Linked DNA regions of Homo sapiens. The protein of the gene in region 2 interacts with the protein of the main gene of each other region in a pairwise test. Each region holds a gene or a part of one and is shown on either strand. Other genes may lie near its edges.

What was found. Proteins that work in one complex are often made in the same cells at the same time.
Region 1: the proteins of CTNNA3 (region 2) and RPS6KA5 interact in binary tests that used the Homo sapiens proteins (3 or more experiments, as listed by UniProt).
Region 3: the proteins of CTNNA3 (region 2) and CKMT1A interact in binary tests that used the Homo sapiens proteins (3 or more experiments, as listed by UniProt).
Region 4: the proteins of CTNNA3 (region 2) and VIP interact in binary tests that used the Homo sapiens proteins (3 or more experiments, as listed by UniProt).

Annotation. Positions count from the first base shown.
Region 1 is NC_000014.9:90,872,142-90,875,641, forward strand, and holds part of RPS6KA5 (ribosomal protein S6 kinase alpha-5), read right to left. Parts: intron 3,220-3,500; coding exon 3,060-3,219; intron 1,655-3,059; coding exon 1,491-1,654; intron 182-1,490; coding exon 1-181. UniProt on the Homo sapiens protein: Serine/threonine-protein kinase that is required for the mitogen or stress-induced phosphorylation of the transcription factors CREB1 and ATF1 and for the regulation of the transcription factors RELA, STAT3 and ETV1/ER81, and that contributes to gene activation by histone phosphorylation and functions in the regulation of inflammatory genes.
Region 2 is NC_000010.11:67,217,196-67,220,695, forward strand, and holds part of CTNNA3 (catenin alpha-3), read right to left. Parts: intron 2,676-3,500; coding exon 2,412-2,675; intron 1-2,411. UniProt on the Homo sapiens protein: May be involved in formation of stretch-resistant cell-cell adhesion complexes.
Region 3 is NC_000015.10:43,692,617-43,696,658, reverse strand, and holds the start of CKMT1A (creatine kinase U-type, mitochondrial isoform 1 precursor), read right to left. Parts: upstream 2,801-4,042; 5' UTR 2,609-2,800; coding exon 2,460-2,608; intron 2,133-2,459; exon of another isoform or gene 1,949-2,132; coding exon of another isoform or gene 1,856-1,948; coding exon 1,657-1,855; intron 1,454-1,656; coding exon 1,358-1,453; intron 972-1,357; coding exon 750-971; exon of another isoform or gene 749-749; intron 621-748; coding exon 535-620; exon of another isoform or gene 531-534; intron 420-530; coding exon 296-419; intron 1-295. UniProt on the Homo sapiens protein: Reversibly catalyzes the transfer of phosphate between ATP and various phosphogens (e.g. creatine phosphate).
Region 4 is NC_000006.12:152,749,479-152,753,596, reverse strand, and holds the start of VIP (VIP peptides isoform 1 preproprotein), read right to left. Parts: upstream 2,801-4,118; 5' UTR 2,638-2,800; intron 1,430-2,637; 5' UTR 1,420-1,429; coding exon 1,313-1,419; intron 1-1,312. UniProt on the Homo sapiens protein: PHM-27 and PHV-42 are two bioactive forms from proteolysis of the same precursor protein, that cause vasodilation. PHM-27 is a potent agonist of the calcitonin receptor CALCR, with similar efficacy as calcitonin.

The DNA of each region.
Region 1 (3,500 bases), on a different chromosome or scaffold from region 2:
GCAGTGTCTTGGTGGGTGTAGTTTTACCGTGAGAATGAGAGGAAGAAGAATGGGAACTCTCACTGGAACTGCTGCGCGTCTCGGTACTGGTGCTAGTCTTTTTCATTTTTCTTCTCTTAGCCAAAGGGGCCTTATCAACATTCTGAAGGCAAAACCCCTCTCTCTTGTATTTGTTAAAGGCCTGGCGGGGGAAAAAAAGGGAACCCCTGTGAAGGTAAAAGTACTGAAGCTTTCCTAGCAGTTATGACTTACAGCAGAAGACAACTTTCCATTGGCAACTGCAGCCCCAAGTTGTTTTAAGGGAACAAAGCTCTTAAAACCTTTATATCTAAGTCTATTGGCAGGGTGGAGAAGTTCATGGGAAAAAAATTCTGAGGGCTCTGTTTATATCAAACTAGCTAGGCGGTCTGAGAGTCACAATTCTAATAAATCTTTTGAAGAAGTTAGTACTACATCCTAATACGAAACAATTGACTGGAAATTCCTGAAGACCATCAGTAATCTAAACTATCCCCATTGCTTTTACTGGTTCTGTGTCTAAGATTTAAAATTCTGAACACAAAGTCCCAATGCAAGCAGACTTGACGCATTCTGAGTCTTTGCTCTTCAGTCCCATTCAATGTCATTTGGATATATACTGGACACTTACACGCATGGAGAAGCACAGCTCTACAGCTTTGCCCTGGCTTCCTCCTCCTGCAGCCTGTCTTCACTCTCCTTAGCCTAGGCTTGGATAATGCTGCAGTTACACCTTGTAGTTGTCACCTTGCAACCTATGTCACTGAGAAGATTTGGATCATCTGATAGAAATTCTTGCAGTTAATCTCTTTACCATCTCAACATTTCCTAGTTTATTACTTTTTAAATCCATTTCTGCTGCTGAAGAAGCACTATCCCTATACCTTCTCCTTTCTCAAAATAATCCCTTTGAAGGTGACTTTCTGTTTCCCTAACTCATCTTATACTATACTTCACATGAATTATCTTAATATATTTGCATCTGCTTGGCACAAATGTGCATAATCCACAGTTTCTACCAAATAGTCTCAGTCTTTCAAACATACAATCTATACTTAATACCAATGAACTTACTTCATATCCCTCCCAGTTTTAAGAATGTGTGATGTACTAAATGGTTGTAAAATGAATGGACTTTCAAATATGCCTTAGTTCCTAATGTTTATTATGGTTTTTAAAGAAATTTAGTCAGTCTATTTGAGAGGAAAAAGTTCTATTATCTCATCTCATAAGGTCATTCTAAAAATTAAATATGTATTTTGTGGGTTAGCAGTGACTCTGGTCCCCTGTGCACTTATTGTTATAAAGTGTTTATAACCATGAAGCAATTTATAAAAACATACCTAAAAGTAAAAGGACACATATTATTTTAAATGTGAAACAAAGAAAACGTATCTGAGGCTACAGAGTAAGAACATTTGATTATGATTCCTACTCAAACCGCCCAACATGTACAGAGCACAGGGCCTTACGTGGAAGGTTGCTTTCACACAGGTATGCACGGCAGCTCCGGAAGATCCTAGAATATCCGGAGTCATCAGAGGATTGGAGGACAGCTGACTTCCATCTTGTAGCCATTCATTGTACCTCAAGCCAGACATTTTAAGCCTTTTGTTTGGATCTACTGTGAGAAGTCCTTTGGGAATAGATATTTTTATTTTATGATTTGTCATTTTAAACATGGTTTAAAAACAAACTCAGAAATAAATCTCAGCTATGTTCACATGACATAATGGTTTCTATATAGCTTTAACCTCCTACAAAGATAATTAGATTTTCCTATTCATTTAAATTCTTTTGTGAATGCTGGAGTCTAATGATAAAGTCACAGTAGCCTATTTCTAGGAAGCTCCAGGCGAAGTGGCTTTTCAATCAGGAGAAAATAAACATCCAAAACAAAGATTCCCACTGGTGACTTCGTAAGCTCCAAATGAGCAAAAAGCACACAGATCTACTTCATCCATATACCAAACATTTACTGGCCATCTTCTATAGGTCAGGGAGTGCAGTAAGGCACTAGAGATATGGAGATGGAGATGCAGAGAGGAGCTATTAATATCAGAAGACACACAGGCAAAACCCCAGCTATTATAACATCAGGGATAAGTGCGATAGCAAGATACACAGGCACAGTGTGTTAGCAGGCCTGAGGGAGAGTGTAGCCTAGGGAGTGAGGGCATCCTGGAAGGCTTCTAGGAGATGAATCCTGTAGGATAAGGAGAAGTGGCTATGGAAGAGGATTAAGAGCATGTAAAGACACGGAGGGATCTGAAAGCTCAGCATATCTGAGGAATTCAAATATCCTGCAACGGCAGAGCTGGGGTGAGGAGGAAACAAAGGCAGACAGGACCAGGTCATGAGGGGCTTTGAATGTTAAATGCTAGGCTAAGGAGTCTGACCTGAAGCAAACAGAGAGTCTCCAAAGGATTTTTGGCAGAAAAGAGGCATAATCACATAGGGATTCTAGAAAAGTCCCTCTATTGACAGATGATGAACAGCTTAAGTCAGAGGAAGTGAGGCAAGGTGAAAGGATGCTGCAGGATTTGGGGAGAGAAATGGTGATGAGAACAAAGGCAACGGCAGGTGAATGGGAAGGAAGGGACCGGACTGCTAGGAGCGCTGCTGAATGTGTAGAACTCTGTGACTGGCTGCAGAAGGCAGGCAGGTGCAGGTATCCAGGAGGACGCCTAGGTTTCTGTTTTGGTGATCTGGCTTCTTAGCAGTGCCACTGTTGACAGGAGGAAAGACAGGAGGAGGAGCGTGTTTGGGGGGAAGGACAGTCAAAAAGTATTGGTTTGTTTTAGATGTGCTTGACTGAGATGCCAGTGGAAGTCAAGTGCTAGCTCATGTTAGAAATGTGGATACCATTACTAAAGAGAATGTTCTGATAAGAAAACAAGGCTGAAGAGAGTAGCCTGGAAGCCTTTTAGAATACACATGGATTCCTCGAGTAATTAACATATGAATGTATGTGTAATGGCCATGATTCTACTTCAATCACTACACATCATATAAAATGTAAAATTTCATTAGATTCTTACCTTGGATCAAATCTTTAGCCTCTTGGGATACATTCTTCCAGGCTTCTCCTTCAAAGGAGAAATCTCCCTTTTTAATTTTCTTCATGATTTCCACCGCGCTGGTACACGTCAAACTTCGGTCATGAGATTGGAAGGGAACCTGTCCTGACAACATTGTGTACTATCAGGGAAAAAGTAACAAAACAGAATGACTACCCAGATCTGTTAAAGCCACTCTAATAATCCTAATAGTAACGTAACTGGTGTAATTTACCAATTGCTACAACTAGCATGATTGAGTTTAAAAGATTACGTGATTCCTCAGGGATCTAGAACTAGAAATACCATTTGACCCAGCCATCCCATCACTGGGTATATACCCAAAGGATTATAAATCATGCTGCTATAAAGACACATGCACACGTATGTTTATTGCGGCACTATTCACAATAGCAAAGACTT
Region 2 (3,500 bases):
AGCAAAATAGAGCAAAGGTTATTTTGGATCCTTTACCAATACAGCTTCCTGTAAATAATGAAAAGTGCAACCATTTAATTTACCAAATCATTAAAAAAGGTTAAATGCTCAATAAATTCTGCTTTATCTAGTTCAGTCAGCCACAGCAGCTATTTGTAACTTGGATATAAAAAATATAGAAAACTTAGGCATTTTTTACTAGTTTGTGCATCTGTACCTTTGACTAGAACTAAATTTCAAAGGTTGTTCAGACAGTTTAGAATCCTCATTAGGATCTCAGAGAAATATCTTTTGGACCCCTTCCCGCCTCATGAAGAACAACTGAGTCTGCCTTTCTTAAGAGAACACTGTTGCCCTGCCTATGCCCACTCCCACTGAAGTTACACACATAACACGCACACTTTCTCCTCCTCTCCAACCACTGCCATTTTGTGCCTGTGGCAGTCACTTTCAACTAAAAAGAGAAAAGAGAAGAGGTCTCAGAAGGAGGAACAATTTGGAAATGTCTTCTTCTTTAATCCTAAAATACAGAATGCATTGTCTGAGATAAACTGGAGCTCTTATGGGAGCATTCTCTGACACAATTGTGTTTTAGTACTGTGAAAAATGTGCTATACAGGTTGAGCGTTGCTAATCTAAAAATCTGAAATCCAAAATGCTCCAAAATCTAAAACTTTCTGAATGCCAATGTGATGGCACTAGGGAAAAATTCAGCATCTAACTTCATGTGACAGGTCGCAGTTAAAATGCAGTCAAAACATCATTTCATGCACAAAATTTTTAAAATGTTGTATAAAATTACCTTCAGGCTATGTGTATAGGGTATATATGAAATATAAATGAATTTCATGTTTACACATCAATCCCATTCCCAAGATAATTCATTAGGTATATGCAAATATTCCAAAATCCAAAAAATTCCAAAATCCAAACCACTTCTGGTCCCAAGCATTTCAGATAAGGGATGCTCAACCCGTATGATCCTATCTATCTACTCTAACAAATTTCAATGTATCACACTCGGCACTCCCCAGATACAGACTACAGATGGTCCCTGACTTGATTTAACAATGGTTCAACTTATAATTTTTTCCAGCTTTATCATGGTGCAAAAGTAATACATATTCAGTGTGTATATAGAGTGTTTCAGGCCCCTAAAGGTCATACCCTTCCCAGGGTAGAGTAACCTGCATCCAGTGACTGAAAGAGACATACAGGCCTGGCCATTTCTGCCTGACAAGGTACACTCTGGAGGGCAATGCTCTCACCAGAGCTCCCTGCTGATTGGCCTAGGCTTTGCGGGTCTAGCTGTCAGGTAGACTTCTTCCTCTATCCAGTCCCGCTCCTTCCCTCTTTCCTTCCCAAATGTAACACCTTGTTTTCCAAACTCCATTCTGTGTGTGATTCTGGAGGACCCAGCCTACAACACTAGCCATGACTCCTTCCTTTCATTCATGTCCCACATCCATTCTATCAAAATTCAGTTGACTCTATTTACAAAATTTAGCACTGATGTCCACCAACACCACTCTAGTCTAAACTAAAACATGAGGTGGTTCATGTAAAGTGTATAAATGGAACCTGGGTTACTACAATAGCCTCCAGCCTGGTTTTTCAGTTCCTCTCATTGTTCTCCTTCAGTCTATGTTCCTTATGCAACTATCATAGTCCTTTTAAGACACGAGTCGCAGCATGTCACACCTTTGCTTAAAACCTTTCAGTGTATTCCCATTTAACTTGGAGTAAAAGCCAAAGTCCTTAAAGGCATACACACTCCTAAATGGTTGGTTCTCCAACCTTAGCTCCTGCTACTCATCACTTTGCTGTCTTCACCTAGACACCCTGGTTTTTATGTTGTCACTTAAACACAGGGCACATACCTTCAAGCCTTTGCTCTAGATCTTCATCTGCCCGATTCCTGAACTCTTTCAAGGCTTTGGCATTATCTCACCTTCTCAGTGTAACATCTATACAATTTTGTTCTCTACAGTGTTTATTGGTTTTATTTTTTGCCTATAATCACCTGCTAAAATGTAAAAATTTGTCAAGGGAAGTGATCAGATATGTCCCAAGCACATAGAACAGTAATGCCAATAAGTATTTGTGGAGTGAATAAATCTTATGCTTCATAAGTAGATCTACATAAAACAAAGTCATCATTTCGATCTAATTAACAATCCCACTTCAAATTCATTGGATTCCTTGGCAGAGATGTACAGGAGTCAGAAGTTTACTAACAGAGTACTTTCCTGTTAATCAATTCTTTGGAAGACTCAAGAAGGTGATAGAGACTAATCTGGATTTTTTATTTTCTCATGCTCTAAACGCCAACATGTGGATCTTCTTCTGTTTTATTATTATTATTACTGTATTAGGACATCAGATCACACTTTATCTTTCTCCCGACTTACCTCCAGCTCATCAAGGGCACTTCCCAGGGTTGCTGCCTGAGGTTCTGGTGGGGTTGTCATATTCTGGATCCCTTGTGAAGCATTTGAAATTACATTGAGAGCATTCTGAATTTCTTCACAAACTGTGTCCTTGCTTGCTTTGAGGGAAGCAACATCAGAATGCTCCAAACAAGCTGAACAAATTGAATGCAAGAGGGGAGAGTTCTCCTTCAGTGAAGCTCGGGCTCCTGCAATTTCATCTCTCTGATTTGGAGATTTTAAGTCCTGAGAAGGTAAATAAAAAGAGTGGTATCTTACAATGGGTTATGGGAGAAAGACTTAAATTAAAAAGCTTCTTTTTTTGTAAGTATAAATGAAAAGATAATAGACATGAAGAAGTCAGCTATAAGTTATAATCAAGGGCATCTATTATTTCTACATTCTTTCAGTTTCTGTTAAAAATTCTGCAGTATAAACAATGACACAGTTAATAAGTAAAGGTCCCCGTAGAGCAGATGTGTAAAGATCCATTACTATTCAGTCAAGTCCTTGTCAGTCAAATCCTTATAAGTAGCTAAAATACTCTGGCATTCACATTATTAAGTGCATTACATGGGAGCTTGAATTACAAGGATGCTGATTACCTCATTCCATAGATGTTGATAATTGCATTTAACCTCTCCGTTAAAATTAGACCAATTGAGTTAAGAACACTAATGAAACCTCCCACCATTCAGCTATTTTTCTTTTTCAGAAATACTAATAAATTAATCCTATATCATTCTTTCTTTGATATTTATTCAACAATTAGTTACTGAGCACTTAGCATATTCTAGCCCTTGTGCTGGACTCCAGTGTACAGATATGAAAAAATCCTACAAGGACCTTGTTCTTCTTTCTTTTGGGGGGAAAGGGCCTACAGACAAACAATGAACTAGATGAACAAATATACGAGATGATTTCAGGTGACAATAAATGCTATGAAGAAAACACAAAAGTGAAGTGTCATAGAGATTGACTTGAAAGGAAAAGCTGCTTTAGGCTGAATGGTCCGAGAAGGTATTTCTTCAGAGATGACAATTTGCAGTAAATGTAAATGAATAGCATTAC
Region 3 (4,042 bases), on a different chromosome or scaffold from region 2:
CACACATCCCAGGCACTGACGTGCCATCTCAGTTATTCCTTCTTTGCATTACCTGCCTTCTTCACTTTCTAAGGTTCCTGACACTCTTTTCCTAATCTTAGTGTGACCACATGTCCTGGTTTTCCCAGTATGGTCCCAGCTGGTTTATACCTTTAGTCCTAGAGTGAGTCCTAGGTAGTCCTTTTTACCATCAGACATGTCTTGGGTTGGTTGATAAATTACATAATCTATTTATGCTACTCTTTGGTTTTCCTTATGTCCTCCCACCTAGCTCCCCTACACAATCTTCTCTAACCTCTTTGAGGCCTCGGCAGAATCTTTCAAACACTCTCTTCATGTTACCACCCTTCTCCATGGAGATCACCCGTGTATGATCCTCCTCATTCACCCAGATCAGGAAGCTCTTCTCATTGTTGTGCCTGAGGGCCGGAGAGGGACAGTGATCAAGAGGCAAGGCAAGAATTGGGAGAGATAGAGGGAAAAAAAGCATTTATGAGGGCATGAAGACAAAAGAGGTAATGAGCAGCTTCATACCAAATTCCACGAGCATCTGGCCAGTCTCGAGCCATTCCTGCTGCAGTCAGCAACGGGGACACAGGCTTATCAAACAGAAAGTGGTCCTGGGAAGAGTAACGGGACTTGGGTTAAGAATCTTCATGGTGGCCCCTGGGCCTTTCAGAGCCCATGTCTCATCTGGCCCAGCCTTCCCCATCTGCTCCCACCAACCAGCACCCTCTTAAGGCCCTCACATCAATAAGCTGCTGCTGTTCAGCCTCTGTCATCTCACTGAGCCTATAGTAACGTCCAGCCAGGTCACCCTTCAGGCCACTCAGTGCATCCACCACAACACGTTCCACCTCTCGTCGCTCTGCTCGAGTGCAAGCTGGAGGCAGACTGAGTCCTCGGATGCTTCGGCCAGTTCTGACTCTAGAGGACAATACATACCTCTCATCAAAGTAGCCAGAACGGATCTGGGAGATAAGGGAAATGAATGTAAGTCACAGAAACACGGTGGGAACTGAGGGCCCCTGGGAAAGGAGAGACCTTCCTTAGGCATTAGAGGACTCTTTGTGCATTCTTCCTGCATGCATTGGAAGAAGAGGCCCTTTGGGAAAGCACTGGAATTGAAGGGGGCATTGCAGACCTTTCCCCAAACCACCCACCTTGGGTCATGGTCATTCTTATCTATCCTTCCATCTCCATATATGCTGCCCCTTAAGATATGATTCTTTCCTTACATTAAGATTAAAAGCTCAGCTGTATAATGACCATGAGTCAGGAAATAAGGTGAAGGGGTTGGAGATACAGAGTGTTGTACACAGGCAATGCAAATCAGAAGTGGGATATTTGAACTCACTTTACTGGCATCTAGATCCGTGGTGTGCTTCATTGTCCGGGGGTCATATCCATTGTGTCGCTCTTGGATCACAGGGTCAAACAGGTCAGCAAATACCTAAGGGGAGTTAAGAGGGAGAGATGGTTAAGGAGAGGGAATCCCTCCCCAGACTTCAATTGTGCATTGATTTCACTGGTTCAGAAAACTTAAGTATGGGGGGCTCAGAGTCTTGGGGGAAAGTGAGAGGTCTTTAGGGGAAAGGAGCTGGGATTACTGGGAAGATGAATTGGATCATCAGGGAGACTCTGGGGACCCCCTACCTCATAGGTCTCCTCATCTCCAGCCACCATGCCCACAGTCTTGATGAAGGGGTGGCCAGGGTTGTCCACGCCAGTCTGGATACACTGATCTAGCGTCCAACCAGTGGGTGTGGTCTTGTCGCAGAGCCGTGCATAGACTGCTGGGGTCAGGTGACTGGCCATGCAGTTGTTGTGCTTTCGGAGGTCTGGGTACTCAGCGCTGGGGAGGGGGTACCCAGTAACCATGGAGGGAGGGCACAGACGCCTAGACCTAGTGCAGTTACCTGGGAGCTGTCCAGTTGGCCATGTCTGGCTTTGCTCCGCGGGAGGAGGGGGAATTAGAAAGAGGGTAAACCTTGGTAATCTCTTTAGGGACTTTCAGAGTCTATGCTTTCCTAATAGTTCTAGTTGCCTCTGGCTGGCCAGCTCAGTTTCTTCAGATCTGCTCAGTTCTTTCCTCCCATGACACAACACTACGGATGGAGGAGGGGAAAAGCCTAAGGAGAGGAATTGAGGAAATGAGGGAAGGAGATGGAGGGGAGCGAAAAGGATAGTTCCTGGCTTTACAATTAGGGATTTGGGCAGCCAGTGCAGCTAGAACTCGTAGGGCCAGAGCTGGTCTTGGCAGGTCCCCAGGAATGTTCTTGCTTTATGGTTTTGGCCCCCACCCCCACCCCACTGAGGTCTGCAGACTGCACAGCCCTCCAGCTCCAGGGCCTTCGTGATTATAGCCCTTCTCTGTTGCCCGGATTCTCACTTCTACCCGCACCTTCGTTCCCATCACCTCCTGCCCCCGCCTCCTCCCGCGCCTCAGGCACTGTTACCTCGGGGGATACAGCCTCCGTCGTTCACTGGCAGCTCGTACAGGTTCCGGTCGGAGCAGAAACCCAGCGGCTAGAGACCCCGCTCCGGCCAAAGCCAGGAGCCTGAGTCCCGGGCGGGCGGACAGCAGACGGGAGAAGGGACCAGCCATGGCTTGAGGTCTGGCTACGGGATCCTGGAGTAGGCGCTGGCGCAAGATAAGATCCGGAACAGGGAGGGAGGATGCAACCGGATAGACCGAGGGCCGGAGCTAGGTCCGAGGCTGCAGCCGAAATGGGGGTCGGATTGGAGGCTGGAGCCGGAATGGGAGCCGGTGCCAATCAGACTGCAGGAGAGGCGCAATGAGCTAGTGGCAGGCGGGCGGGCGGAGGAGAGGGAGGCCCCAGCCGCAGTCTCCAGGGGTGGGGCTCCCCCAGGCCCCGCCTTCCCGCCTGCCACCGCGCTAGGTGCGCGAGGGCAGGGGTGGGCAGCACCCGCCAGGTAATTAGCGGGACCTGAGACTCGCGCGTCTAAAGCCGGGGATGTAGCCCCCTCCCGCCCCGGGGATGTGGCCGCCCAGATTTCAGCACCAAGTGGAGGACAGCACCCACGTGGACTAGCTGAACCCAACACCCTTCCCCCACACCCCTCGGTTTAAGCTGAAACTCGATCCGTCTACCCTGTGGGTGTGCAAGGGTGACACTGCCCAACCTTTCCTCTGCTTTCGGCCTGCCCCAGCCACCTCTTCGGTCTCCCGGGGGCAGCCGCGGGGAAACCGCGGAATAAACACAGATACCAGAGGAGGATATGGAGAAAGCACAGGGTTAGAGGCAGGCACTGGGAAAGACACCCACTGGCTCAAGGTCACCTTTTCCTTAGAACCAGGAAGAGGAGCAAGGTGCTTCCTTGCCACCTCTGTGCACGCCTTACAAAGTTGAGAAAGGACTCCCTGGGAGGAACCAAGGAAATATTAATTCTTATGCCATCTGTGCTGTGTCCTCCACCTCCATTCTGCACCCAAGTCTGAAGCCCTGTTATTTCCTGCCTCTGCTTCTCATGATCCCCCACTTTTTGTTTTCCTTTTGTCTCTCCCACTTTCCTCCACGTCCCCTACCTCACCTTTGATCTTTTACTTCTCTGCGTCTTTTCCAGGCTCAGATGTGTTTGCTGCTCACAGGATGCCCTCTGCGTTTTCTCGGCAAGCTTGCCCACCTGTTGGTGGTGCTGGGTGTGGGGGTGGGCAGGGAATCGTTAGTTTCCTCCTCCTCCTCTCCCTTGGCTTCTCTCTCCGTAGTTCCTAGTTCCTGTGCTGGAGGAGAAGGTAAAGTGAGGTGAAGGGTGTGGTGAGATGACTGGGTGTGGGACTGGAACAGGCAGGCACAGGTCTCCAGACACCACATGTGTTTCCTCTCTTGTCTCCCTAATGCTGTTTAATCCAGAGAGTAAAGGCGAGTGGTGTACAAAGGCATGAGGTGGTCAGGGAATCTCTGCCTTCCTCGTGGTCCCCTCTGCTGCTCTCTCTCTCCTCGTGAAACACATATTCAGATTTGAGAGGGCTTTGTTTCCCAGCTCCAGGTATGATTTGACCTTTGTCCTGGTAGCAAGG
Region 4 (4,118 bases), on a different chromosome or scaffold from region 2:
AGATGGATAGCTCATCTATGAAGATGAATTTGAATTCAATAAGTTTTATGGGGCCTTCTTTTTTCTAATCTTATGTATTAACACAACTTTAATAAGGGATGTACAATGTTACACTGAAAGACTAAGAATAGTCAAATGCATATATGGAATATGACTATATTTATGGATGCATGCATATTTCAATCACCGGCAACTCTTATAATTTTGTGTGTGCAGATTTTCACTGTTAGGGCAAACATCCAAGGAGCGTGTCAGCTCCTGGACACTTGTGTATCTTTCAGTGATTTGGGAGTTGGGAGTCACTAGCAACTAGTCCTCTGTGGGTCTGAAGCTTAGCAATCAACACAAATGTCCACATTCTTGTGATTGTTCATCTGCTGTGGTAGAACTATTCAGATAGAACCATTTTGTTTAGTTATCAAAGCAACGCAGGAGCTGTATTTAAACAGATTTCACAGAGAACACTAATAGCTAAGAGGTTATTCTCTCTGTTGAGCATAAGTCTACCTTAAGCAAAAAATCAAGAATGACCTAATAAGCAAAGAAGGAAACCAACCCAATTATTATTTTTCCTTTGGAGATACAGTGGTGCCCGTAAACTGAAAGGAAAATTCAAGCTAATATAGTTTTCATTTATTGTTTACTTCTTTAGCATACATTAATAAAGTTTTAAATAAGAGTTGTGTTATACTTTATGGATTTGGAATATATAATATAACATATAGAACAATAAAACTAAGGATTTATGGTCCAAACAAAGTATATCAAAATTTTCCTATTGGGGGAGTGTATCTCAATAGATCAATTACCCCATATTTAATATTGGCAAATTGACTCTGCCTAGATAGATTTCTGTGCAACATGATTTTATACATGTTTCACTAATCAACTACTAGTCTTATGATTATTTACTGATTAATCTTGAAAATAAACTCAAATGTGGTTGGCAACTAAACAGCTTTTTTCCACCAGAAATTGAACTGACTTGAGATAACAATGGATAAAAGCTTATTATTTATCTAAAGATGGTTTTGAATAAAAAGAAAGTGAAAGCCTCCTTTCACCATGTTTGGGAATGTGATCCACTCAGCCCATAAAACTAATAACTGACAGTGTCTCTCATGCCCTGAAAGTGAATTCCAGGACTCAGAATGACCTGATGTTGACAAACACCTCTCACTCAACACATCAAGGAAAAATTTAAATACATAATACATAATTTATACTATTTAGTTGTCCAACAAAATGTATAGGAAATTCCCATTTAGATGAGGAAGGAATGTTCAGATGTTTGAATTGAAAGGGAACTTACCTGAGAGCAGAAGGTGCCCTGTAAAGAGGCCATGCCGAAGTCTGTGAGAAGAGCACACTGAGAAGAGTCAGGAGCACAAGGAGCTGGGCCTTATTTCTGGTGTCCATTTCTGTGCCTCTAAAGAGAGAGAATCACCTCAGTTCTTCCAGCCAAAGATGTCACCAGCAAGGTAATTCTGATTGTCTAGCAGTAATTTTCAATGGCTCTTGCAGAGTTTGTAAAGAGTAATTTTCATCTTGTAGAAAGAGTTAAATTGCAAGATGATACATTCAAAAATCAGTATTTCTCTCAGTGACAGGTGCTTGAATAAAAATTAGAATCCTTTTCACCTGCTGTCTGGGCACATGGTTGGCCCCAGTATCTATTGAATGCCATACTTCTATAGTGCTGGAAATAACCCTGGGGACAATCTTTTCATAACAGGGATGTACCACTCAAGCTTAGTGTATTTTTTGACGAAGGAAACAGCTTCAAGACATTGATTTTCTTCTGCTTTAAAATTTCAGTATCTGACTAATATAAGACTAGAGTATCATCTATTTAATAATTATTCTGCTCGTGTGTGTGCAAATGTATAAATATAATGTGTATATATACATATAATTTTAAAAAAGATTTTGTATATACATTACTTTTTCCTCTTTCAATTGTAGATATTACGGAAACTTATTTCCTTACACCTGGATTTGAACTTCTTAACTCAGTAGTGAATATTAATACTCAAAATATTACTGAATCATATGTTGTCATTGAAATAAATTTTTCCATAAGAGGAAAATATATATTAAAAGCAAAGCTTGCATTTCTTGCATTTAATCAACTTACACATTTCATTTCTAGTTTCTAGATTAAAAGCCTAGGAGTAAGGTCTGTTTCTCTTGCTGCCTATAAAAATTATGGAATTTAAACTTAAGGAAAAAATAAATGCATCTTAGATTCACTTAACCAACATACGAAATAGGAAAAAAAAAGCACTTTAAAAATAAGTTGAAAATTTCAAAAGCAAATGTTCCCACTGAAATTTTCAGTCAAAAATCTACATACAAGTAAACTTTACTTGAATGAATTATTTGTAAAAATCAGTATTCAGTAAAAGAGCAAGCAGGGTAAAGCATCTTACAAACAAAAGAATTCAGAAAATCTATCCATATGAGAGAAATTGAAGTATTTCTATCCTTACCAGGTGACTTGAGAAACTTGTTTTTTGCTGTTGCAAAAGCAAAGCACTATCAAATTCTTTTCAAGAGAGAAAAATTCATTATTTTGTGAGAAAAGTTCCAGAGGCAGGAGGGAAAAAGAAGAGGAAAGGTAAAGTTTTCACTTACCTCGCCCAGTCGTGCTCCCCCGGAGCTGACTGTTCTGGTTTGTTTTGGAGCTGTCTTAGGTGCTGAAGTCCTGGGAGTAAGAGAAAGGCTCCACCAGTTCTCTGCCCTTAGCAATGGCTAAGGGTTGGCTGTTACTGCCTGCTGGTGCTTCTCACTCTACCCTGACCAGCATTTCAAAGCCCATCATTTTATAGGGCTTATACTTAGGACTGAGCAATCACAAAGTGCTCTGAAAGACGTCACAGTATGACGGCCATGGGATGAATAGGGCTTGAAGTTCTTACTTAATTGTCATTATGCCTAATTTATATAAGTTTATAGTGAGCAACTTCAAAATGTAAGATAAGAGGAAATTTACTTTTCTTTAAACAAACAAAGTAGCAAGCTCAATGTGAAATGTTTTAACCTTTAATTAATTGTAAAATAAGAAAATGATTGTAGTGTTATAGCCAGGGCCATTGGGATTCCTTCAGAAAATAAAGACTTCATGTGTAGAAACAAATGCATAAAGCAACAAACACTTATGTTCATTACGCTTATAAAAGTATAATTATACTTTATTACAAAGTATCAATTCTCTTAATATTTTTAATTTTTATGCTATTCATATAGTTCCAGATTTAATCTTTCTTGAAATCTATCCTAACTTTAAAAGCTCTAGAGATAATTTTCACCTTCCTATTATTACATTTCGTCTTTGTTGAAACTAATTCCAAGATAAGTGTTTCAGAAAGTCTCTAAGATAGTAAGATATGCACGCTGTTGTACAAAGCAGTACAAGTAGTGCTATTTCATATTTGTATAAAATGGCACAATTCCCAATGCACTTTTACATACACTGTGTCAAATGATCCAAAAAATAAATTGTTGTCAGGCTATATACCTCAAGGAATTTAATTGTCTTTTCTTTTTAAAGATTTTCCTCATCACTTTTATAAGTCTTTGCATAATGTAGAATTAGTTTTCTACCCTCATCCCCAACACACACACATACTCAAACCAGTTTTGAACATTTCTGATTCAATCACTTGACAGGTGGCTTCAAATAGTTGAAAAGCATTTATATAGTACTTTGATAAATACTTCACTTCTATTTGTGGATTTGTAACTAAAGGTAGTCTAGCACACATTCAATCAGAGTTTAAGGTAAAAATGCAGCCACATGAAAAATTTCCTAAACAACAGAGGAAAATGCCATTTTTCCTTTTATTTTAAAGGCTTTCTGCCATGTGTATTATTTTTACATTTTGTTTCTAAGTTTCATAAGACAGAATGGCTTTACAGTCCTCTTTCTTCTACTTTAAGATTGTAGTATCTATTTCCTTCGTTCAAAGTCAGACTGATCCAGTAAAAGAATATCCTGCTATGCTTAATCATATTTTCTAATCCAGTTACCAGAAAAATTAAATGAATTAAGTTTCAAAATGTCTGGAAATTTGTTTCCCAGTTGACAGCTCTGACTTAAGCCAGAGTTCCTGTGG